Linked DNA regions of Homo sapiens. The protein of the gene in region 1 interacts with the protein of each later gene in a biochemical or structural test. Each region holds a gene or a part of one and is shown in the gene's direction. Other genes may lie near its edges.

What was found.
Region 2: of the proteins of PTPRO (region 1) and CDH2, one has a biochemical effect on the other in vitro, tested with the Homo sapiens proteins (one large-scale study listed by IntAct).
Region 3: of the proteins of PTPRO (region 1) and TEK, one has a biochemical effect on the other in vitro, tested with the Homo sapiens proteins (one large-scale study listed by IntAct).
Region 4: of the proteins of PTPRO (region 1) and TEC, one has a biochemical effect on the other in vitro, tested with the Homo sapiens proteins (one large-scale study listed by IntAct).
Region 5: the proteins of PTPRO (region 1) and TRPV4 interact in a test that uses a peptide from one of them, tested with the Homo sapiens proteins (one large-scale study listed by BioGRID).
Region 6: of the proteins of PTPRO (region 1) and PDGFRB, one has a biochemical effect on the other in vitro, tested with the Homo sapiens proteins (one large-scale study listed by IntAct).
Region 7: of the proteins of PTPRO (region 1) and PXN, one has a biochemical effect on the other in vitro, tested with the Homo sapiens proteins (one large-scale study listed by IntAct).

The regions. Positions count from the first base shown.
Region 1 is NC_000012.12:15,325,508-15,329,007, forward strand, and holds part of PTPRO (receptor-type tyrosine-protein phosphatase O isoform a precursor), read left to right. Parts: intron 1-3,500.
Region 2 is NC_000018.10:28,167,131-28,170,630, reverse strand, and holds part of CDH2 (cadherin-2 isoform 1 preproprotein), read left to right. Parts: intron 1-3,500. UniProt on the Homo sapiens protein: Calcium-dependent cell adhesion protein; preferentially mediates homotypic cell-cell adhesion by dimerization with a CDH2 chain from another cell. Cadherins may thus contribute to the sorting of heterogeneous cell types.
Region 3 is NC_000009.12:27,199,725-27,203,224, forward strand, and holds part of TEK (angiopoietin-1 receptor isoform 1 precursor), read left to right. Parts: intron 1-3,095; coding exon 3,096-3,395; intron 3,396-3,500. UniProt on the Homo sapiens protein: Tyrosine-protein kinase that acts as a cell-surface receptor for ANGPT1, ANGPT2 and ANGPT4 and regulates angiogenesis, endothelial cell survival, proliferation, migration, adhesion and cell spreading, reorganization of the actin cytoskeleton, but also maintenance of vascular quiescence.
Region 4 is NC_000004.12:48,165,339-48,168,838, reverse strand, and holds part of TEC (tyrosine-protein kinase Tec), read left to right. Parts: intron 1-212; coding exon 213-253; intron 254-885; coding exon 886-1,061; intron 1,062-3,500.
Region 5 is NC_000012.12:109,782,589-109,785,493, reverse strand, and holds the end of TRPV4 (transient receptor potential cation channel subfamily V member 4), read left to right. Parts: intron 1-1,056; coding exon 1,057-1,178; intron 1,179-1,715; coding exon 1,716-1,873; 3' UTR 1,874-2,405; downstream 2,406-2,905. UniProt on the Homo sapiens protein: Non-selective calcium permeant cation channel involved in osmotic sensitivity and mechanosensitivity. Activation by exposure to hypotonicity within the physiological range exhibits an outward rectification.
Region 6 is NC_000005.10:150,117,846-150,121,345, reverse strand, and holds part of PDGFRB (platelet-derived growth factor receptor beta isoform 1 precursor), read left to right. Parts: intron 1-23; coding exon 24-142; intron 143-335; coding exon 336-458; intron 459-1,222; coding exon 1,223-1,334; intron 1,335-1,779; coding exon 1,780-1,879; intron 1,880-2,493; coding exon 2,494-2,599; intron 2,600-3,495; coding exon 3,496-3,500. UniProt on the Homo sapiens protein: Tyrosine-protein kinase that acts as a cell-surface receptor for homodimeric PDGFB and PDGFD and for heterodimers formed by PDGFA and PDGFB, and plays an essential role in the regulation of embryonic development, cell proliferation, survival, differentiation, chemotaxis and migration.
Region 7 is NC_000012.12:120,220,731-120,224,230, reverse strand, and holds part of PXN (paxillin), read left to right. Parts: coding exon 1-80; exon of another isoform or gene 81-397; coding exon 398-513; exon of another isoform or gene 514-1,231; coding exon 1,232-1,368; exon of another isoform or gene 1,369-1,480; coding exon 1,481-1,682; exon of another isoform or gene 1,683-2,472; coding exon 2,473-2,608; exon of another isoform or gene 2,609-2,916; intron 2,917-3,305; exon of another isoform or gene 3,306-3,500. UniProt on the Homo sapiens protein: Cytoskeletal protein involved in actin-membrane attachment at sites of cell adhesion to the extracellular matrix (focal adhesion). Recruits other proteins such as TRIM15 to focal adhesion.

The DNA.
Region 1 (3,500 bases):
TGAAAATTTTTATTTTTATATCAATATTGATGGTGTATATAAAATAGAAGAAAAAATGGAACTCTGTTATTATATTGAAGGCTACTAATTTCAAAGTCTTCTATGGATGAATGCAAGTGAGGTATTTATCTGGCGAGCCTCGCTGTTGTGTGTCTTCCCATAATTCCCAGTGAAAGAAATGTAACTTCCTACACTTGTCCTATCTTTACTAAAGCCCTCCTAGAAAATGTCTTCCTGTATCAGTTTACTCAGTATAAGTACTTTGTCTACTAAGGTGCAAATCGTGGAATATGACATCATAGGAATTTGAAGTTGGCCTTCCCTGAAATGTTGCTTTTTAGTAGTCAGCTGGAATATATTCCTAAACTCAAGTGCTTGGCGTGTGTCCTTCTTTTTTAACCCCTTCTCTCTATTTCTTTCTATTTCTGCTTTTACCAGAGATATCATCAAAGAATATCAAATTTAAAAAGGGTCTTAATATTGTACTTTCTGAAACAGGTTTATATTTAATTCTATAATACATGAGTGTTATGATACTGGCCATTCTACTCTTATCCAGGGGAAATATCTGTTTTCCACGGTCTGTCTGCCTTTCCTTTCCTATGTCTCCCCTCGCAACCCCATACACACACACAAAGAAGTTTCACTTTTCGTGGTTGAGGTTTCATCCATAAATTGCACAGTGTTGGCAGGTGAACCATAATCCTTTCATTTTGCTGGAGCAGCTTAGATCCTTTCCATCACAATGAAGTTTGCTGCCCTTAACTCCCATGTCATCTGACTCCTTTAATAAATCATATTGCCAACCTTTTGGAGAAACCTTTTTACATGTGACATCCCCAGTAGGTTGGCAAAGGCTCCCTGGGCCATGCTTCTACAGATGATCGAGTAATAATCCTTCCCACTGTGAACATATGTTTCCTTTTGTTCTTTGTTTTGTGAGAGACTATCGTTGTGTGAAGGAATGAAAAATTCACATTACACCTCTGCCTCATTTTGGCCCAAAAGAAAATGCACATTTATGTGGATAACTGATTAAAAACAATATGAGTTGTACTTTATTTTAAAATGTAACACTATTTCTACTATCTAAATATCCAACTTAAAGGTATTTAAACGTATAAGCAGATTTACTCCTGAACCTTATAAATATAATTCTAACTTGAGGGGTTGTAAAAGAATGTTTGATGTCAGATACAGTTGATGCACTTAAGTAAAACATTGTAATTGGTAGCAGTGTGGCACAATAGAAGGCTTAACAACAATGACCACAAGTTTTCATTTTCCCCTAATTTAATGCCTCTCCGTACACAGTTTCAGTGATGTTGCATTTTCAGAAACATATCCCAGTGCAGTGATGAGCTTTACTGTAAAGCACTTAATGTTTTCATTTAATTACTCCAAATATGTTGTAAATATTTTTGAAATAAAGGAATGTCTACTGTAATATTTCTATCTTTCATGGTGCTAGTATGTGGTGTTAGGAATTTAATAGAAGGTTAATAAACAGATTTAAATTTTCTGCATTATATAAAAGCTCTGACTGAGAATTATGAAATATTGTAATATTGACTTGTGAACACATCTTTAAGGAAAATATAGGAAAATTATCATTATGGGAGTTAAATAATCATAACTACAATGCACTCATTACATTCAAATAGTAAAAATTTTACCAATCACTTATATTAGAATCTTATTAAAACCATAAATTAAAATATCAGTTATTTTTCCCAGAAATGTAATATTCTCAGTTGCTCATTTATTCATTAATGTTACCTCACCTCTGTTTAATGTTATTAATTAAAAAGTAGCAAATGACATACTAGGGGAAATTGATTTTTTTAACCTGTATGGGTGACCTACAATTTCAGCTAGTACCCAGATATACAGGTAATATTTTTGCCTCCTCTTCCACATCACCACTCCGCTATGACCACAACCAACCAGAACTGACCAAGATTTCTGTGTTCCTAGTAGAAATCCTCCTAATGTTTTGTCAGACATCACCCTTAAGAGATGAAGTATTTTCTACACCCTGGTCTTGGTTATCCCTATGGTAGTGTTTAATCCAAGGTCGTATAACCCAATTTCTTACAGAACTCTTCTATAGTCATCTTAAATACCCATTATATCAGCTCTTTTTGCTCAAATAAATATGTAAGTTTTTTTTGTGCGCTGGTGTCATTGATTTGAGGAACCCAAACAAGGTTAATGTGGCTCAAGTAAAGTGAGCAAGAGTGTGAATGGATTGGGATGAGTGTGAATGGGTTCCTTCTCTCCTGGTGCTGTTGACTCCAGCAGGTCCCATAGGGTTTCTATCAGCCAATAAGAGGTGGCTCACGCCTGTAATCCCAGCACTTTGGGAGCCTGAAGCAGGTGGATCACCTGAGGTCAGGAATTCGATACCAGCCTGGCAAACATGGTGAAACCCCGTCTCTACTAAAAATACAAAAAACAGCCAGGTGTGGTGGCAGGCACCTGTAATCCCAGTTACTCGGGAGGCTGAGGCAGGAGAATCGCTTGAACCCAGAAGGCGGAGGTTGCAGTGAGCAAAGATCACACCATTGCACTCCAGCCTGGGCGACAAGAGTGAAACTTGTCTCAAAAAAAAAAAAAAAGTATATGTGAATAACCTCCTTAATTAAATACCTCTCATGTAATCTGCTATCACCAATTACTCCTAATGTTTCCCTTTTCCAAGCTTGTTCTAGGTCTTCAGAACACCAATCCTTAGATTTTTTTTCCTCTGCACATTGTACCTTTGAATTTATTTCTATGAGTAAGATCATATCTTAGCCTTGTGCCAGAAAAGCGTTCGCAAGTCTTTCAGCATCTAATTCCCGAATGAAAGATTTCTTCTTTCCTTAGACATTCTAGTTACTTAAAGGCCAGCTCCTTTTTCTTCTGAATATTTTAAAACCACCAAACAAACAGAAGATGTTTGAAACAAGGTTGCGGGGATTTCCTGATAAAAGGTTTTTTTCTTTCCTTTTTTTCAGGAAATTGAGATGAAAGGGAGAAAAGTGATATATGCTTGGAAAAATATTTCAGAAACAGAGAATCAGAAATGGAAATAGGACTTCAAGCTTGAGAGCGGTATTGCAAATTATGAGTATGAATGGTAATTTCTGTAAGAAAATGAATATAGGGGAAATTAGAGAATGAAATGAAGAACATTTGATGAAAACAAATACACTGCAATTCTATTTATATGCAAATAAATGTATTTTCTTATCAAATACTCTTTATCTATTTGGTTTTTCACTCTTTATAAATAGGAATGCTGCACAGTTCATTTTTCTAACAAAACTATTTCTATCTTAATGAAAATTTAAACTAAATAAACCTATTTTTAAATGTGATTTTTGGTATATTTACTAGCAAATTAAAAGAATAGGAATGCAATTTATCTACAAGTAGTGGTGCAAGATCAGAATTATATTAATAGTAATCTATATGAGATTTAAATGATGAATGTTTCCCTTTTTTGTGCTATT
Region 2 (3,500 bases), on another chromosome or scaffold:
GCTGATGCCTGTAATCCCAGCACTTTGGGAGGCCAAGGCAGGTGGATCACGAGGTTAGGAGATCAAGACCATCCTGCCTAACACGGTGAAACCCTGTCTCTACTAAAAATACAAAAAATTAGCTGGGCATGATGGTAGGCACCCGTAATCTTAGGTGCTTGGAAGGCTGAGGCAGGAGAATCACTTGAACCCGGGAGGCGGAGGTTGCAGTGAGCCGAGATCATGCCACTGCACTCCAGCCTGGGCAACAGAGCGAGACTCCACCTCAAAATAAAATTTAAAAAAGCTACAGAGAAGGACAACCAAAATAAATGAGGATTTCAGGCTTCTGAATGAGGATTAATTTGACACAGACCACAATATAAGCTATAACTGAGAAATATACAATCAAACAGTAGATTTAAGAATGAAGATAACCTAAACTAACACTAGGACAATCCAAGTTAGGTTTAGAACAACCTATAGCAGCCTGAGCTATAAGTAGATCCAAAGGAAGATTGGCTGAATTAATGGATAGCTAAATAATGGATACGTTTCCATGCTGACATCATGGAATAACCACTTTATGCTGAGTTCTCAGTGCCTGAGAGATTATAATAGTTGGGTAAACCATGGTAATATTTCACATTCTCCTGACTGATTGAATGTTTAACTTTTCATCTGTTCTAATAGTGGAAGTGTAATTGAAAGTGGACCTTACTAGTATGTGGAACTGGAGATACAGAAGAACATTTAGTATATGAATGAGAGTTCTAGTGTACCCACTGCCTTGATTAAGTAAGCAGTTTAACTTGGGTTTTTCAAAGTAGCATTGGGAGAATTAGTTGTATAGTGCTTTAAAGCAGCTTGAGCTATTTAAAAAGAGTTGCTATTATACATATGGTATGGGAATTATAATGCAGAGATGTTTGATCCATGATCTGTTCTTAGATTTTCTTTCATAAAATATACCTAGCTATAATTTAAAAATTAGATAGTGTACTTACCTACTCCCATATATTGTAGTTTTAATTTTAATACTGATTTTTGTGTAATTAAAAACATTAATTGGCCATTATAATTTAAAACATGTATGCCCAGATTTTCTTTCCATTCTGATATGTTACTTAATGTTTGGGTGGATTAAATAATTAGTTTTAAAAAGTAAATTAAAAGGTGCATAGTTTGGAGTTTTTATTATTCCAGAAATCACTGGCACTAAAAATGTAAAATGACTCTTTTCTCCCTTCATTACTAAAATACACTTTGAGTTTTCTTAACTTTCTTCTGTTGCACTAAATATTGGATTTTGATGTTACTGCTTTCGTTAAAGGTTGTAAGGATTGCCCTTTTAGTTTTTTCCCACATCTGCAGTTTTAAGACATTCCTCAATTTATTTTATATTTGGTAATTGTCAGTACGTCATTCACAGAACTCAGTAGAGCAGATACAGCAGAGAAAACCCTTGAAACTAGGTATTTGCTGCTGCCTCTTTAAAGAGTTTTTCAAGCCAATGTCTGTTAGTATTAAACCTCAGAAATTAAGTATTTTTAATTTCAGGGAAGGAAACTATTATGTTTCAGTTCATTGTTTCTGTAACTCTATGAGATAGGTGGTTTTGCTCTCATTTTAGAGATGGTAAAACTGGAACTCAAACATTCTGAATATGAGAATCCAGAATAAAACCATATTTGTCATATTCAAGTTGGGCTTGACTACAAAGCATACGGGTTTCTCCCTTTATCAGACTGCAGCCCTTTTTGTATAATACCCAGAGAATGACTGTCACAATAAAGAAGAGTTTCAGTTTCTCTCTACTTAGTTGATTTTTTTTTCTTTAAATAATTAACTTTTGAATTACACTCTCTGTTTAATCTTGGCCTTAAATATTTTGCTTTCTTTTGGCATCTGAAGCCAAAACATAATGCTTGGTTAAGATTTTCATTCTTTTTTCCTGTGGTCTTTAGGAGAGAAAAAACATTTTAGAAGCATTCATAATCAGTTTTTAAAAGTTCTTCTAATAGTTTTGATCAACAAATAATATGCTGGTAAGTACTCAAAAATAATTTTTTTTAATGAATCTTGGAACTTAAAATACTTTCTGAAAGCCTATAAACTCTCAGGCCACAAGACCACACATTTTTTTTGAAACTCTTTTTTCCATATTCTTCAGGGTGAAAGTAAATGCAAGATATTCCACCACCAATTTTTGAAAAGTTTTAATGTTTAATGTTCAAACATTTTCCATATTTGAACACTTTGCATTACTTTTTCGCACACTAATAATGTTATTTGGCATATTTTAATATACATGTCCACATCTTGAAATGACCCACTGCAGACAAGTTCCGGTGAATATTCTGTAGTGTAACTGAGTACAGATACTGATTTGTTTGCTGCTGGGAAAAACCTAGAACTATTTTACTTGTAACTTGACCTGTTGTTGGTGGGTGGATACACTTGGCTTGACTGTAATCTTGCACGAAATGTCTTGTTTGTTGGTTGGGAAACTATTAAGTGGAATCTGAAATAAAGGACTAAAAAAAATTACATTTACTAAATTGAAAGGGGATGTAATCCCCCCGCTCCCGCTTAACATAAATCTTTAATAAACTCGAAACTGTGACCACTTTGTTATTATTTTTCCTTTTGTTGTCTTAATTGGTTAACACAGACATTCAAAGTCTGAAGTTCATTCTTTATGGCTCTCGGGTTGAGTAAATAAAGAAAAGTCTGTTTTTGCAGCGAAAATATTGGCCTTTGGCACCCACTCTCTTGCTAAAGTCTATTTGGTGTCAACACCTTTACGATTGAGTTCTAATATCCTGCTACCTGATATGATATTTTAGGGAACTCAAAATTCAGATTATGTACATATAATACACACATATACATTTACTTTATGGAAGTGTCAAATGCATACAGGAAAATATACATAGAAGTGGACAGCCTGCTAAATGTTCCTAAATGGAACATACTAGTTAATCAGCACTGAATCAAGACAGAGTTTTACCAGTACCTCCTTCCAATTTTAACCGTCCCTCAGTGGTAACTATTTATTTGACTTCCAACAGCATGATTTTTTTGCTCATTTATACTTTGTGAAACCATATTCTCTTTTGTGTCTGGCATCTTCCACTCAGTACGCAGAATCTTTCTTATATTTATATCATATGTATTTGTAATTGTCACAAAATTAGGAAAGACGGACACTATAGAAATATATTGGAGGTAAGGAGGGTGAAGTTGGTTTAAAATGGAAAGATTAATCATTTTTTGCAGCTAAAGGCCACTCGCACATTTATGGTGTCAAGCCACTAAATACCTTTTGTGGGTTTTCTTACAATATCTTTTGCCATAGTTCTGGTAGTTTGGCAATATCACTTCAGCCAAATGCCAAATACATTTGGAATTCTGTTAAGTTATAGTCTCTCTTGTCCTTCCTTTTATTAGAACGAGAGTGGAGACAAAGAACTAAATATCTTTCTGACCTGAAGTTTTTAATCAGAAGATTTAGGTGT
Region 3 (3,500 bases), on another chromosome or scaffold:
AGGTTGTCTTTCTTACTGATTTGTAAAAATTATTTGTGTAATCTAAATACTTTGTTATGTGTATTGCAAATATGTTCTCCTAATCCCTTTATTGTAACCTTGTTTGTGGTGGCTTTTAACCCACAGACACTTGACATTTTGATGCAGCTGGACCTGTCAGTATTTGCCTGTGTGATTTATACTTTTTGCATTTTGGAATTATTCCCTATCCCAAGGTCATAAACATATTCTCTGTGTTTTTCCTAGTAGTTCTAGTGTTGTTTTGTGTATTTAGGTCTTTAAGATATAAAAATGTTATTTTGGGGTGCAGTATATTTTAATATTTTTATTTTAATCTTATTTATTCACATATGGCATGTCAGTGGTCCCAATGCCACGTATTGAGTAGTCCCCATGGTGAGTTGTGATGATTTCTGTATCATATGCCAGGTTCTCATATTCATTTTGCATCTATTTCTGGATGTTCTGTTCCCTTCCATTGATCTGTTTGTTCCTGTACCATTTCCAGCATATTAACTATAAACTTGTGAAATGTCAGTAACTATGGGATGAATCACTATTTCCTATTTCAAAATTATCTGAGGTGCTCACTCACCTAAACTACATAAGTTTCATCCTCATTAGAATGATACACTCTCAAAATCACACTATCATTATCATATTTATAGGATTAAACAAAAACTAGTTAATAGTCACTGGGAGTCGACTTGCCTTGGATGATTGTATGAAGTTTGATGGAGGGTCAATGCTGGTGGTGGTAGTAGGGATGTGAGATTGGCAGGGTAGGAGTTGATCCCTATAGGGTCAGGAAATCCGAGGAAGGAGGATGTGAATGAGAACATCTCATTTTTACCTGAAAATATTTGTTAATATGCTGTGTTGTCATTGATCATGTATGTTCATAAGTAAAATTAATACTTCCAGTTATAAAGTTTGTGTTGGTTTCCAGCCTAGCAATTACATCTGGTCCAGGGGTAAGAAGTGGAGTGAATTAGATTTGGCGTATCACCCCAATCATATGTTAAAAATAATATATGTGTGTTATGTTTTCCTGTTGGAAAACATTTACATGGGGAGTATTTGACCCTTACAATGACTTTTTGAGGAAAGTAGAGTAAGAATGATTATCACAGTTAACAGATGAGGAACCTGAGGCACAGAGGAGGGTAAGTGACTTGCCCAAAATTATGGAACTAGTACGGCATGGGGATTAGGATTCTAATCCACATTTTAGTTCTATTTTTCCCCCCACCATGCTACAAATGTCTTGCACTTGTCTCTTTGGATGGGCGACCCACTGCTTCAAAGCAACTATGCTTCTAGAGGTTCTTTAAGTAGTGATATCCCGTTTCTAAATTGTTTAAGGTCTGATTAGTGTTTCCTAAAGCATTTTAGAATCTATTGTAGAGTCACCCAGAGAACCTGCTAAAATGTAGATTGCTGGGTCCAGACCCGCTGAATTTAAATCAAAGGTTTATTGAGCTATCCCTAAGAATGACTCCTTTCAGGCATAAAATGGTAAGTTGGTAGATGCAAATTTATGATTTTTAGTTGGCACAAAAATTATATTCATTATTTTTCTAACAAGCTTCTAAAAGACACTGCTGCTTTTTGTGACAGGCTTAGAAGACCACTGGTTTATGAAGTTGAATTTTTTGAGCCACAACTATACAAATATTAACTATGTGATCATAGTAATCTGAAAATGTTGGTATTTCTATTACTCCTTCAATCTCATGTGGGAAGAAAGGCTATTGTATATTTTTATAAAAATATACAAAAGACTTGGTACTGGATGTAAAGAAAGTTAAGACATACTGTTGATTAATTGTGATTTTTGGATACTGTACCATCTGCTAGACATAGAACATAACAATCAGATTTGGAAGGTTCTAAATCCAATACCTAATTCTCATAAATTGCCACAGTCCCCTAAAGAGTAACAAGGGGGAGTCAACATAATGAAAAGAAGAAATTTAAAATAGAAAGGATGTACCTTGAGATACTTCTCAAAGGTTCTAAATTGTTTATAAGCAGTAACTTTCATGTGGAAAAACAATGGTGTATGGAATGAAACAGCCTATGTCTACTATTCGCCTACTGGGACAAGTACAAACCCCTTAAACTTTTGAAGTCTCAGTTTTCTCATCTCTAAAATGTGGATCATAAAAAATCTCAGTACTGTGTGGTTATACAAGTCAAGAGAGTGTCTGCATGTGGAAGCACATTGTAAATAGCCTCATAAATGTAAGGTACAGTTACTATTAAGGACAAGAGCTCGAATCCATTCTTTTCCTGGATCAAATAGGCTTAGCCTTTATTGGATCACGAACTTCCCTTCTAGCCTGTGCCCTTTAGAGTTTGAGTGAGAATGTAGTGATGCTGCGGTGCCTGTCATCTTCACATGTGGAAAACCTCAAGGCATCTCTTTCTCATCCTGCCCGTGTCCCTGAATGGAATGTGATTCCACTTTTCCCCAAATCCCTATAATACTTTGTCTACTAAAAGTTATTAGCACATTTTCTCATGTATACACTGACCTGCCTGCTGCTCCATAAATTGAGGGCAAGGACTGACCACATGACACTAAGACTATGGACTACAGAGCCAGACTGCCAGGAGTTGAATCTTGTTTCTTCTACTTAACAGTAGTGTCACCATGGCTAAGTCACTTAATCTCTCCAGACCTCAGCACTTACAGAAAGATTGCTATGAAGAGGAAGTGAGTTAATATATACAAGAGACTAGATCAATGCCTGCCATATTGTAAGCACTATATAAATGCCAGCCCTCAGAAGCTTTCCATTCTTCCCAGCATCAAGAATAGTAAGTACAGGTTTGTGGAATAACAGAATTTCTAAGGCCTTCATTTAGTGTCAAGATGACAGATAGATGATATGTGTTGCCATTTCTCTGTCTGTGCCACTCTTTCAAGTCTGCGTGGAGTCCAGTAGCCACTACCAATTGATTGGGGTACCATATGAGAAAACATTTGTTTGCCTTATATGAGCTGACATGAACTCTATCTCAAAAGCATAATGATCTAGGCCATGGTAGTATATCTTAAGTGAATCTTTTTTCTTTTTAATTTCTAGTTCTTCCTCCTCAACCAGAAAACATCAAGATTTCCAACATTACACACTCCTCAGCTGTGATTTCTTGGACAATATTGGATGGCTATTCTATTTCTTCTATTACTATCCGTTACAAGGTTCAAGGCAAGAATGAAGACCAGCACGTTGATGTGAAGATAAAGAATGCCACCATCACTCAGTATCAGCTCAAGGGCCTAGAGCCTGAAACAGCATACCAGGTGGACATTTTTGCAGAGAACAACATAGGGTCAAGCAACCCAGCCTTTTCTCATGAACTGGTGACCCTCCCAGAATCTCAAGGTTGGTTGAATGGACAAGTATTTACATAGGATTACCGTGCAGCCCTATAGGCAGCTGGTTTATCAGGACAGGCCTGTGAGATGAAAGCCTATGAAAAGTCGGTGG
Region 4 (3,500 bases), on another chromosome or scaffold:
GCGTTCAGAAAGGCAGAAATACAAACCAGCTATAATAGCAGTTTTTAATTCTGTTCTAGAATAGAGATACAAGCAGCATACACCAGAGTTGGTCAGAGTGTGCTGCTTGTCTATGTGTTAACTTCCACTTTTCCTTAAAACTACCCATATCTTATTTTTATCAATTATTGGTAGATAGCATTTTAATCTGTTTTTGTTGTTGGCATTTTCAGGTATAAGAAAAGCACTACCTCCAGCACCAGAAACAAAGAAGGTAGGTGGTCTTTAGCTTTTGATAGTTAATCTTTACATTTTAAGCCTTTAAGTCTTAAGTTTTGGTAGTGTTTGTGACTTACTGAGTATGCGGTTTATTCATTGATGTGACACAATTTTTCCCTAGGATCGTCTCAGAAGCAGATGTGCTGTAGCTTATTTCAATTTTTTGTGGTGTCAAATAATACCAATTTAATTGTATGAGATTTTATCATTGGAGATCCTGTTATCATCTGGCATTTTGCCTCTATTTTCACTTAAAGAGTTGTATTAAGAGGAGTGGGATTTAGATAAATATTTCAGTCTTAAGACCACAGTGTGACAAAGAAGTGACTTCACTGATATAATGATATGCCTTTCAGGAGTGGGGTATAGTGGAGGAAACATGCACTTTGGACTCATTCAAGACTTGATCTGATATGAGTGACTTTGAGTGGGTTAATTAAATCATTGTTACCTTAGTTATGAAACAGGAATTATAATACTCTTCTTCATGAGAGTTTGTTGGATTATAGTAAGTAGACTTGAAGTTTCTAGTTTATTCTGTGGTGATGTATGACTCATTTAGTGTTTTGATTCATGATCAGTTTCATATAGAAGACTAAACTTTCAAATGTTATCTTCCTTGTCTAGCGAAGGCCTCCCCCACCAATTCCACTAGAAGAAGAAGATAATAGTGAAGAAATCGTTGTAGCCATGTATGATTTCCAAGCAGCAGAAGGACATGATCTCAGATTAGAGAGAGGCCAAGAGTATCTCATTTTAGAAAAGAATGATGTTCATTGGTGGAGAGCAAGAGATAAATATGGGTAAGTATTCCCTCTATGTGTGTGATATGCAGTGGGTAGGTGGGAGTCAAGTGTTGAGTGAGAAGTAGATAAGTCGTAACTATCGTGTAATGAGACTAATTTCACCAGCCATAAATGGAAGCACACCTTATTACTTGGTAGTAACACAGTCCTTTCTTAGTGGTCACTCAGTAAATGCGAATTGATCAATCACTTCTTTTCAAAAGTTAGAATACATTGGTCTCTTTCTCATCTGATACATGTTTAATGTGATTATTTTGACCTTGAGGGAAATTAAATTTTATATTTTGTCCCCACCTGCCATAAGTAAGTAATCTTAGATTTTTCTAAGAGTTTATTGTAATTTTTTTCTTAGACTCTCTCTCTCTATATATACGTATGTGTATGTGCGTGTGTGTATGCATACACATACACAGTATAATGAAGCCTCTTCTCACTTCTTTCTCTCTCTCCATGAATATATGGAGGAATAAGAGAATATATATATATGTATATGTGTGTGTCTATATGTGTGTATATGTGTTTGTGTATGTATATATAAAATATATATATGTACATGCAGGAAATTAAACAGCAAGCTTTTTTTTGTACAAGTTAATTTAGGATTTAAAGAAAACAGTCCTTTCAACCCTATCATTGATAAATATATGGGCAGATAGGGGTAACTGTAGGGGATGAGTATCTTGCAGGCTTCATAAGCAAACTCTGTATCCTGTGTTTACCTCTGCAGTGCAATCCCACTTATACTCTGAGTTCCAGTGGATGAGAAGAGGAGAACTTTTTGTCCTGCCAGAGCACACTCTTCTTCCACCTGCCCTCTCACCTCCCAGCCCCAGCCCCAATTTCAAGTCACTGTTCCTCAGTTCACTTCTGGAGAAGCAGTGGAAACCTCTAGTTTAGGCGGGGTCCTTTTCTTCTGCTTGATTCCTAGGCATGGTGCATATATGAGTGCTGTTTTGCTGTGCATTATTAACTTATTTGCAACTCTTAACCTTTTATTCCATGTTTACAGGAAGGTTGTCACTGCTTCTCTTTATCGGATGCTGTATAAGATTGATTTCTATTTTTAATTTTTTTTTGTTGTAGAAATTTTCAAGCATCCAAAAAGTATATAATAGTATAATAGAATCTCTTTTTGCTTGACTTCAAAAATTACCAACATTTTGCCAGTCTAATCCTTCCATTTTTTTCTAGAATATTTAAAAGTAAATTCAAGTCATCATGTTATTTCACTCCTAAATCTAAATTCTAAAGACTTAAAAAAAACACCACCATGTCATTATCATTCTTAATAACAGTATTTTAAATAAGATCGTCTGTAGACTTTCCCTTAATATTTTTGTACCTGGAGGAAGAGTACAAATGAGAATCCACATAACATATATCTAAGTATTTAGGAGTTATAAATCAAGCTAGCAAACTTTATCCTCCAACTTGACAAATACCCTTTCATAGTGACAAGAAAGGCACGGTTTGGATTTAGAGCTCTGTGCCAGAATGTTGCAGTGCATGGAAAGCTGGCTCTGGGGGGGCTACCTCTCTTCTTTCTTCCCTCCTGCCCTGGCTCTATCTCTCATGTACCATATGGATCTTCCAACCTGTACACCCACACTCTTACTGCGTGGCTTGCAAAAGCTACCCCGCATCATGGCCACACCTTCAGCCTCAGTGAAAGGGAATGCACATGGCCAGCCAGCACAATTTGTTTTTTAGAAGATGGACCCAGTAGAAGGCCCATGTAGACCTTGGAAATGAGCAGGGTGTTCTGGGGTCCTAGTTACCCAGAAAGGAGCATGGGAACACAGGTCAGAGGGAACACGCACTTTTGCAGAGCTCTCAAAAGTGTGGGGTTAGAGCAAGAGCTTCTCTGGCCCAGGTCTAAGGATGGAACCAATTATGTAATTCCAGTTTCCCCGATTAGCTCTAATACTTATTTTTACTGTTGGTTTATTCAAATCAGGACCCACACACTGCATTTTGGTTAATATATCTCTTATGTTTCTCTTATTCTACATTTTTGATTTATTGATGAAAGCAGGTCATTTAACACTAAAATGAGCCATAATCTAGATGAAACAGATTGTTTTCTTGTGGTGTCACTTAATATGCCTGTGTTTCTTGTATTTCTTGTGAACTGGCGAGTAGAGCTAGAGGCTTGATCACATTAGAAGGTGATCTCTGGATGTCCTACTTTTAGTAATGCTAAGATTGCTTAGTGGTTCAGGTGTCAGACTTGTTCCTCTGTCATAAAGTTCTTCATTGGTATTTACCCTGATGATTTGGGGGTTCATTAATGATTCTTTCTTAGAGTCATTATTTCATTAGGGGTTACAAAATGGTGATTTCCTAATTTTGTCATTCCATCTGCATTTAGTAGTTCTCTAAAGAAGAACTGCCTCATATACCAGTTCATTTAGTTCATGAAGGAAAGGAAAGATG
Region 5 (2,905 bases), about 94 Mb from region 1:
TGAGCCGAGATTGCACTACTGCACTCCAGTCTGGCGGACAGAGCAAGACTCTGCCTTAAAACAAACAAACAAAAATGAATAGATAGGATAAAAAATTAAAGATAATATGTAAAAAAAAAAGATAATATATAAAAAAATGAGTGGATAAACAAAATGTGGGCTATGTGTACAGTGAAATATTATCTGGGCCAGGCGTGGTGACTGTAATACCAACACTTTGGGAAGCGAGGCAAGAGGATTGCTTGAGCCCAGGAGTTCAAGACCAACATAGTGAAACCCCATCTCTACAAAACGTTTTTAAAAAATTAGCCAGGTGTGGTGGCATATCCCTGTAATCCCAGCTACATGGGGGGCTGAAGTGGGCGGATCACTTGAGCCTGGGAGGTCAAGGTTGCAGTGAGCTGTGATCGTGCCACTGCACCCTAGCCTGGGCAATGGAGTGAGACCCTGTCTCAAAAGAAGGTTAAAAAAAATAATTTCTGCTTGGGGGAATGGAAGAATTTTGGAAATAGATAGCTGTGATGGTCACACAATGTGGATGTGCTTAATGCCACTGAATTGTATACTCAAAAATGATTAAGATGGCAAATTTTTTGTGTGTGTATACACACACACACACACACACACACACACGTCTTTTTTTTTTTTTTTTTGAGATGGAGTCTTGCTTTGTCCCCCAGGTTGGAGTGCAGTGGCGTGATCTCGGCTCACTGCAACTGCCTCCCAGGTTCAAGTGATTTTCCTGCCTCAGCCTCTCGGGTCACTGGGACTATAGGCACCCGCCACCATGCCCCGCTAATTTTTTTTTTAATTTTTTTTAATTTTTAGTAGAGGTGGGGTTTCACCATGTTGGCCAGGCTGGTCTCGAACTCCTGACCTCAAATGACCCACCCACCTCGGCCTCCCAAAGTGCTGGGATTGCAGGCATGAGCCACCACGCCCAGCCTTGTTATGTATATGTTACCATAATAAAAAAATAGGAGGGTGTGCTGGGGATGGTGGCATGGAGAGCGTCTCTGAGGGGTTCCCCATGACCCTCTGCTTGGGCCCTGCCAGGGTGGATGAGGTGAACTGGTCTCACTGGAACCAGAACTTGGGCATCATCAACGAGGACCCGGGCAAGAATGAGACCTACCAGTATTATGGCTTCTCGCATACCGTGGGCCGCCTCCGCAGGGGTGAGTGGAGGGGCGGGTGCGGAGGGGAGCCCCAGTCCATTCTCATCACGAATTTGCTTTGAGCAGTCCTGCTTCTTTCCGGGACTCAGTGTCCGTGTCTACAGAATGAGAGAGTGTGCCCCTGAGCTTCCTCTGCTGCTTGTGAATGCCTGGGGCACCTCACCTACGTGGCTTCATCCTGGCCCTCCCTACTGTTGACATAAGCTGGCCTGGGGAGGGAGGACGAGCTCCTCAGCCATCCCTGTGTGGAGAAAACCTTCCTGTTTGTCCAGTAAGCCATGAGCACGCGAGACGCAGCTGGAGAGGACACAGGCACTCAGGGCATTCGGCTCCAGGCTTGAATCCTGGTTCCTCCATTCTCTCCTGGGGAGGCACCTTGACCTCTCTTGAGCCCCAGTTTCCACCTCTGTAAAATGAGCATAGTCACATCCCCCCTTCAGAACACTGTGGAGTGCCCAGTACACAGTAGGCACTCAATATACGCACGCTCTCTCTCCACCAACCCCCACCCCTCCCTCTGATGTGCTCTCGGTGCAGATCGCTGGTCCTCGGTGGTACCCCGCGTGGTGGAACTGAACAAGAACTCGAACCCGGACGAGGTGGTGGTGCCTCTGGACAGCATGGGGAACCCCCGCTGCGATGGCCACCAGCAGGGTTACCCCCGCAAGTGGAGGACTGATGACGCCCCGCTCTAGGGACTGCAGCCCAGCCCCAGCTTCTCTGCCCACTCATTTCTAGTCCAGCCGCATTTCAGCAGTGCCTTCTGGGGTGTCCCCCCACACCCTGCTTTGGCCCCAGAGGCGAGGGACCAGTGGAGGTGCCAGGGAGGCCCCAGGACCCTGTGGTCCCCTGGCTCTGCCTCCCCACCCTGGGGTGGGGGCTCCCGGCCACCTGTCTTGCTCCTATGGAGTCACATAAGCCAACGCCAGAGCCCCTCCACCTCAGGCCCCAGCCCCTGCCTCTCCATTATTTATTTGCTCTGCTCTCAGGAAGCGACGTGACCCCTGCCCCAGCTGGAACCTGGCAGAGGCCTTAGGACCCCGTTCCAAGTGCACTGCCCGGCCAAGCCCCAGCCTCAGCCTGCGCCTGAGCTGCATGCGCCACCATTTTTGGCAGCGTGGCAGCTTTGCAAGGGGCTGGGGCCCTCGGCGTGGGGCCATGCCTTCTGTGTGTTCTGTAGTGTCTGGGATTTGCCGGTGCTCAATAAATGTTTATTCATTGACGGTGGAGATGGCAGGATGATGGCAGGGGTGGGAGGGATGGTAACAGGCATGAGACTGCAGCGAGGGAGATGGGAGAGCTAGGAAATGCCTGGGGGGAGCCAGGGGCAGGGGTGAGAGTGAGGGCAGAAGTCCTGACCGGGAGGCATTTAGAGTGTTGGTGGTTGGGGGCTGGACTGGGTGGTTGTGATGGTGGTGGTGGTGGCCTGAGAGGTGGCTGAGGTTGGTGTGGCTGTGGGGAAGGTGGGGGTGGAGGGAGGAGAGCAGAGTGATGCTGGTGGGGGTAATAATGCTGGCCAGGGAGAGTCATGTTGGCAGGGCGAGAGTGATGCTGGTGGGGGTGACAGTAGTGCTGGCTGGGGGATAATGATCCCCATGGAGACAGTACATTTGGGCAGGGGAGAGTAACGCTGGCCAGGGGTTGACAGTGCAGGTGCGGGGACTCTGGTGCTCATCAGGGGACAATTATACTGGGAGGGCTGTCCTGCTAGGCGGGAGGATGGTTGC
Region 6 (3,500 bases), on another chromosome or scaffold:
GTGACCCTCTGCTTCTCCTCTAGCCCCTGAGAGGACCTGCCGAGCAACTTTGATCAACGAGTCTCCAGTGCTAAGCTACATGGACCTCGTGGGCTTCAGCTACCAGGTGGCCAATGGCATGGAGTTTCTGGCCTCCAAGAACGTACGTGTGGTGTTGGTGGGGCAGAGTGGGGGCTGTGGGGAGGTGGGTCACCCAGCCAGCCAGCATCCTCCAAGAGCACACCAGGGTGGCCTCTCGCACATGGGCAGTGTTGTATTTTCCCAAAGCCCTTGACATGAAGGGTCTTTCCCCACAATTGTCCCCAAGGCCTCAGCTCCCCTCTCCCCAAACCCAGTGCGTCCACAGAGACCTGGCGGCTAGGAACGTGCTCATCTGTGAAGGCAAGCTGGTCAAGATCTGTGACTTTGGCCTGGCTCGAGACATCATGCGGGACTCGAATTACATCTCCAAAGGCAGCGTGAGTACCTTCCCTGGCCCCTGCAGGGCAGTCACAGTGCCTGTGACCGCAGGAACAGATTCCCTCCTGACCAGTGTGGCTGCAGCTCATAGGAAATCTGTGTGGGGCTCCTTGTGGCCTGCCCTGACAGCAGTGATGGGCTGTGCCTGCCCAGCTATGTGTGCAGGGACAGGATGGGGAGCCGCCCAGGAGTGCATGGAGCAAGTATAGCGGCGGGGAGGGCTGGCTATAATGGGTCCAGGGTGGGGGAAGGGGGAACAGGCCGAATGTGTTGTTCCAGTGGTGGTGGGCAGAGGAAGAAGCCCAGGTGACAGGGCAAGAAAGATGAGCAGGTCACATGCAGTAGCAGGGATTGGTCTGGTTAAAACGTGATCATCCTGCCTGTCTCTCATCTCCCCACTTTTCCGCAAACCCCAGATGGAGGGACGCTAGGCCCAGAGATCAAAGGCAGCCAGGATAAGAGCTTGGGGGGTGCCTTGACAAGTCCCTGGCTCCCACACTTCACTACTCAGACCCTGGGGCTTTTCCCCAGGGACAGGGGCTGCCTTGTCCCCAGCTAGTGAGAAAGGAAACAGCCTCTGGTCCTCTGACCAGCCCTGGGATGGACATGGGAACTGTGCTGCGCAGAGACCAGGGCCCTCACAGGGAATGGGACGGAGAAGTGGTTGTGGGTGGGAGCTGCCAGATACCCTCCTCCCATCCCAGGTGCAGAGTGGGGCTGAGGTCCTTCCTTGCACTCAGCACCTGTCCTGACCTCCCTACAGACCTTTTTGCCTTTAAAGTGGATGGCTCCGGAGAGCATCTTCAACAGCCTCTACACCACCCTGAGCGACGTGTGGTCCTTCGGGATCCTGCTCTGGGAGATCTTCACCTTGGGTATGCTTGCTTCCTCCTCCAGCCCTCAGCATCCTGGCCTGGTGTCTACCTCGACCACTCATGCCTCTGGCCTGGTGGGGCTATGGGACGAGCCCTGATACAGGGATCCTGGTTCAGGTCCCAGCTCTGCTACCTTCTCCCTGCTGTGTGATGTTAGCAAATTCTTTGCCCTCTCTGGGTCTCTTTATCTCCCTGTCTGAGCATTGACAGGTTTGAACAGTGACATCAGAAAGCCTGCTTGGCTCTCACATTCTGGCTGTCTATCCTGGGGAGGGTTGTGGTCTCTGTTCAGAGCCCATGAAGGAGCCCACAGTTCCAAATGCCAGGGGCACTGCCCCCTTACCCATACCAGGGCCAGCATGGCTCTCCTTGTCCTGTAGAAGAGGGTGCCCTGCCACTTTTCCACCCCTGAGCCTGTGTATCTCTTGTCTCTGCTCCCCAACAGGTGGCACCCCTTACCCAGAGCTGCCCATGAACGAGCAGTTCTACAATGCCATCAAACGGGGTTACCGCATGGCCCAGCCTGCCCATGCCTCCGACGAGATGTGAGTGGAGTCTCATGCATTTGGGAGGATTTTGTGCTGCAAACAATAGATATCCAACTCTACTGGCTTAAACCAAAGATGAGAGATTTGTTAGCTCAGAGATCTAGAAAGCCTTGGTGTAACTGGATCCAGCCATTCAAAGGATGGCATCAGGAACCTCTTGTTCTAGCCCTGAGCTCTGCTTTGCTCTGTGTGGCCTCATTTTCAGGCCAGCATTGCCCAAATGGCTACCAGCAGTGCCAGTCTCATGTCCTACTGCTTGCTCCATAGTGCCAGCAAAAGTCCCAGAGCTGACCTTCAAGGGCTCAGGTGGGGTCACATGCCATCAAGAACCAACCGTGGAAGCTGCAGGGCTGAAAACTGTTGGCGAAGGTTGGCTCCTGTGCTCACCCAGGCGTAGTCAACCTGTGGAACCATGTGGAATGGGGGCTCTGCGAGGGCCTCCCAAGGGAATATCCAGAGACAGGACCTCTGGATACACCCAGCCACCACTTCCCTCCAGCTCCTTTCCATGGCTCACCTTGTTCTGAGAGGCAGCAGCCTCCTGCTCCCCCAGCCCTGCCTTGTCCCCTGAACCCTGGGCCAGAGGCCCTGACCCTTCTCCCTATCCCCAGCTATGAGATCATGCAGAAGTGCTGGGAAGAGAAGTTTGAGATTCGGCCCCCCTTCTCCCAGCTGGTGCTGCTTCTCGAGAGACTGTTGGGCGAAGGTTACAAAAAGGTATGTTGAGGCAGGGTAGGGGTGGAGCACGGAGAGCTCTGGTGCAGAAGTCAGACACCGAGTACAAGGCTCTGCGTGATGGGCTGGCATTTAGGGGACCACCCTTTGTCCTCTCTGGGCCTCAGTTTCCCTGCTGGTTCTAGGAGGGGATGGGCTGGCGCTGTGAGTTTATTTTAGCAGCAGAGAGCTTTATGAAATGGAATCCTACATGGAAGCTGATCGATTAGATGCAGGGAGGGGGCCTAGAGCACTGTCTGTCCTGCTGCCTCCCTCAGGCCTTTACCTCCATACCGAACCGTGGGGCTCCTTCAGAAGTGTGAATAACCCCAGGTTACATGACCATGAACCGCCTGACCACTTGGATCCTGTCACAGGATTGTCCAAGGCCCAAAGAGCCAGTAGGGCCCTGAAACCCTGCCCCGTCCAACAACACGGGTCCAAGTGAGGAGGAAATACACATGGCCTTTGACACAGAGGCAGCTCCTTCTTTGGGTCCATTTCTCACCCCCACTGCCCCCCGGGGATGGTCCCAGGGACCTGGGAGATGGAGTAAGGTCATCACCACTTCACAGCAAAGGAAACTGAGGCCCTGAAGAAGGACGCTGAGGCAGCATGAGAGCCTGTGCCTGTCTGCTCTGAAGTGGGGGAAGAGTTAGAGTCCTGGGTGCTGGTCTGATAACTGCCCCTCCCTGGGTGGTCCTGAGCTCACCATGCCTTGTAAGATTCTATGTGAGGTAGGAGGGCAGCTCAACCATGTGGCTTGGGCAAATCCCTTTCCCCTCTGAGCAGCGGGGGTCTTATTTATACAAAGGGGGATGGGCTCGGTTAGAAGATCCCTGAAGGCATTTCTGGCCTGACCATCCCTGTTTCTTTGGTTCTCCCTGCCCCGGGAGCAGAAGTA
Region 7 (3,500 bases), about 100 Mb from region 1:
CCAGCGAGGCCCTCAATGGCACAATCCTTGACCCCTTAGACCAGTGGCAGCCCAGCAGCTCCCGATTCATCCACCAGCAGGTGAGGCGGGGACAGTGGCTGGGAAGGCCAAGGAGGCTGGGGGACAGAGGGAACTTAGCTGGCAGGGGCTTAGGGAGCCAGGGGATGGAATGGAATTGGGGCAGTCGACCCTTCCCAACCAGACACTGCTCTTCCCACTCACCACGTGAGTGGAACAGTGACCAAGTGGTTAATCACAGGTTTCCTGGCCCAACTGTGGAAATTCCCTGGTGAGACTGGCTGTGGGCAGGAGCCTCCTGGGGGTGACTGGAGCTGCTCCTGGCCCCTGTTCCTTTTTCTCCCCTCGGGGTAGCCTCTGAGCATTCTCCTTCTCGCAGCCTCAGTCCTCATCACCTGTGTACGGCTCCAGTGCCAAAACTTCCAGTGTCTCCAACCCTCAGGACAGTGTTGGCTCTCCGTGCTCCCGAGTGGGTGAGGAGGAGCACGTCTACAGGTACTGCCCCAGTCTGCCCAGGGCACCTTCCCTCCTGCTTAGAAATCTCAGGGACCTGGCCAGGGTGGGAGGCAGCGGAGGCCCGGGAGCAGGCATAGCAACTGGGCCTTGTGGGGTTATTCTGGTTTAAGCTGCAGAAGGCCTGTCGGTGGGCCCGTCTACCTCATCAGTGCCATCTCCATGCAGTGGACATTCTGGGCTATCACAGCATCTCCGTGTAGCTGAGGAACTGAAGCAAGACTTCATTCCTCCCCTCTTCTTTTTTTCTTTTTTTTTGAGACGGGGTCTCGCTCTGTCACTCTGTCGCCCAGGCTGGAGTGCAGTCGCGCGATCTCGGCTCACTGCAAGCTCCGCCTCCTGGGTTCACGCCATTCTCCTGCCTCAGCCTCCCAAGTAGCTGGGACTACAGGCACCCACCACCACGCCTGGCTAATTTTTAGTAGAGACGGGGTTTCACCGTGTTAGCCAGGATGGTCTCAATCTCCTGACCTCATGATCTGCCCGCCTCAGCCTCCCAAAGTGCTGGGATTACAGGCGTGAGCCACTGTGCCCGGCCTCCTCCCCTCTTCTTACCACATCCCTTCCCTACCCTCTGTCCTCTTGCGGGGGAAGACTTCGCATCTCCTCTGCCTTGTTCTCCTTGGGAATCTGGGAACTGCCAAGCCAGTACAAGGCCAGAAAGCATCTCTCACTATCTTCTTTCCTTTGCCTCTCAAAGCTTCCCCAACAAGCAGAAATCAGCTGAGCCTTCACCCACCGTAATGAGCACGTCCCTGGGCAGCAACCTTTCTGAACTCGACCGCCTGCTGCTGGAACTGAACGCTGTACAGCATAACCCGCCAGGCTTCCCTGCAGGTAGGACCGGGTCCCTGGGGCAGGGTCTACCAGGGCCCAGGGCCCATCTGCTGACCTCTAGATCCCAGGAGGGCTCAAGGGCTGAGCAGCCTTTTTCTCTCCTCTCTGCAAGATGAGGCCAACTCAAGCCCCCCGCTTCCTGGGGCCCTGAGCCCCCTCTATGGTGTCCCAGAGACTAACAGCCCCTTGGGAGGCAAAGCTGGGCCCCTGACGAAAGAGAAGCCTAAGCGGAATGGGGGCCGGGGCCTGGAGGACGTGCGGCCCAGTGTGGAGAGTCTCTTGGATGAACTGGAGAGCTCCGTGCCCAGCCCCGTGTGAGTACCCACTGGGCCCTCCCCAGGTGGGGAAGGGCTGGCCCAGCCTGCCCCGGGTCCAGTGTCTGTCCCCTTAGCCCTGGTATCACCCACTCCCTCCCGTGTCTGCCATTTGCCAGGCACTGGGGGGATAGTGGTGAGTCACATGGACACCATCCCTGCCTTCAGCCAGTCACTGCCAGTCAGAAAGGACAGACGTTGTGCAGGCTGAGGGCGCCTGGAGCTTAGCAGCTCTTAGCACAGGCTTTGGGGCCACACAGTGGGGTTCACATCTTGGCTCTGACAGTTACTGTCAGCTCTCAAGCCTTAGTTTTCCCATCTGTAAAATGGGACAAGAACTTATGGGATCACTGGGATAAGACCACCTACCTCAGTAAGGGTGAGAACCAGTAATCCATGTAAAGCGCTTGGAATGGTTTCTGGTGTGTAGTGCGTGGCACACATGGTGAGTGCCCAACACGCGAGCTCTTACCAGTGCCGTCGTGTTACTGCAGTAGCCTCACCTCCATGTCCAGTGTTGTGGAGGAAACACAGGGCGCTTGGGCTTGTTTCGCAGGCCAGCTTTCACTTGGGCTGGGGGCTAGAGGAGTCTTCCTGGCACTTCCTGGTGCCATTGAACTGCCCTTTCTTCTGACCCAGTGATGGGTCCCCAGGAGAGACAGGGAGCTGGTGGACCTCCCTGGGGTTGGGGATGGTGAGACCCCAGTGTCCGAGGTGAGAGGTCGATCTGATCCCCGGGAAGTGTGGGGCTGACTGTGGGCTCCCCACTGATGCTGTGCCCACCCTGCAGCCCTGCCATCACTGTGAACCAGGGCGAGATGAGCAGCCCGCAGCGCGTCACCTCCACCCAACAGCAGACACGCATCTCGGCCTCCTCTGCCACCAGGGAGCTGGACGAGCTGATGGCTTCGCTGTCGGATTTCAAGGTGCCCTGTGAACCCTCCATCTTCCCTGCCCTGCCGCCCCTCCCTCATCCTTCTCCTCCCTTACCTCAGTGTGGGTAGCTGGATCTTGGCATCTCAGTGTTTGGGTGCCTTGCCCCTGAGCCAGGGACACTGTCATGCCCTGGCCTTGCTGTGATGCCAGGAGATGGGGAGGGAGGGCCGGGTCAGCCTGCCTGAGGATTGCAGTAGCCAGTGAAGGCAGACAAGCTGGAGAAGTGCTCAGCTGGGACATTCCTTCCTCCCTGGGTGCTCCCAGCCTCTCAGGTCGAGGGGATCAGGAGGCTGGGACGCTGGGACAAAGAACCTTGTGTTGATGGCTGCTCTGGGTGGGGGAGGGCATTCTCTGCTGGGCCATGTGGGACTTGGGAGCCTGTGCCTGGGAGGTCATTTGCCCTGGAGCCCCATCTCCCACGCTAGCTGTCCTCAACACATCCTCTTTCTTTCTGCCTCTGATCCTGAATCCACAAGCCTCCCTTGCTACTCTTCTCCCATCCTTCCCTCTCGCCCTCCAGGGCCTCTGAGTTCCCACGAGCGTGTCTGTGGGAAACCATGGGGCCAGGCTTGCACGAGGTACCTGCCCTTCCCCTCCCCTGCTGGGCCTCCCCAGTCCTGCCAGGCCTGAGATGTTTAATTTAGAGGATTCAGTGTTTCCTTGGGGATTGATATTGACAGAACTCACCAGCAGCTGCTGACTTCATACTTCCACGTGGGTCAGCTGGAGACCTTTGGGGCATGACCTAGGGAATATGAGAGGGGAGTGAACGGTCCCTGCACCCTTGGCCCTGATGGTGTCTCCTAGCCTCCCTTCAGCTGAGGTTTCATGGTGGGAGACAGGAGTGTGGCTGGGGTGGAGGGTTGAGCCTGGCCCTGTGAC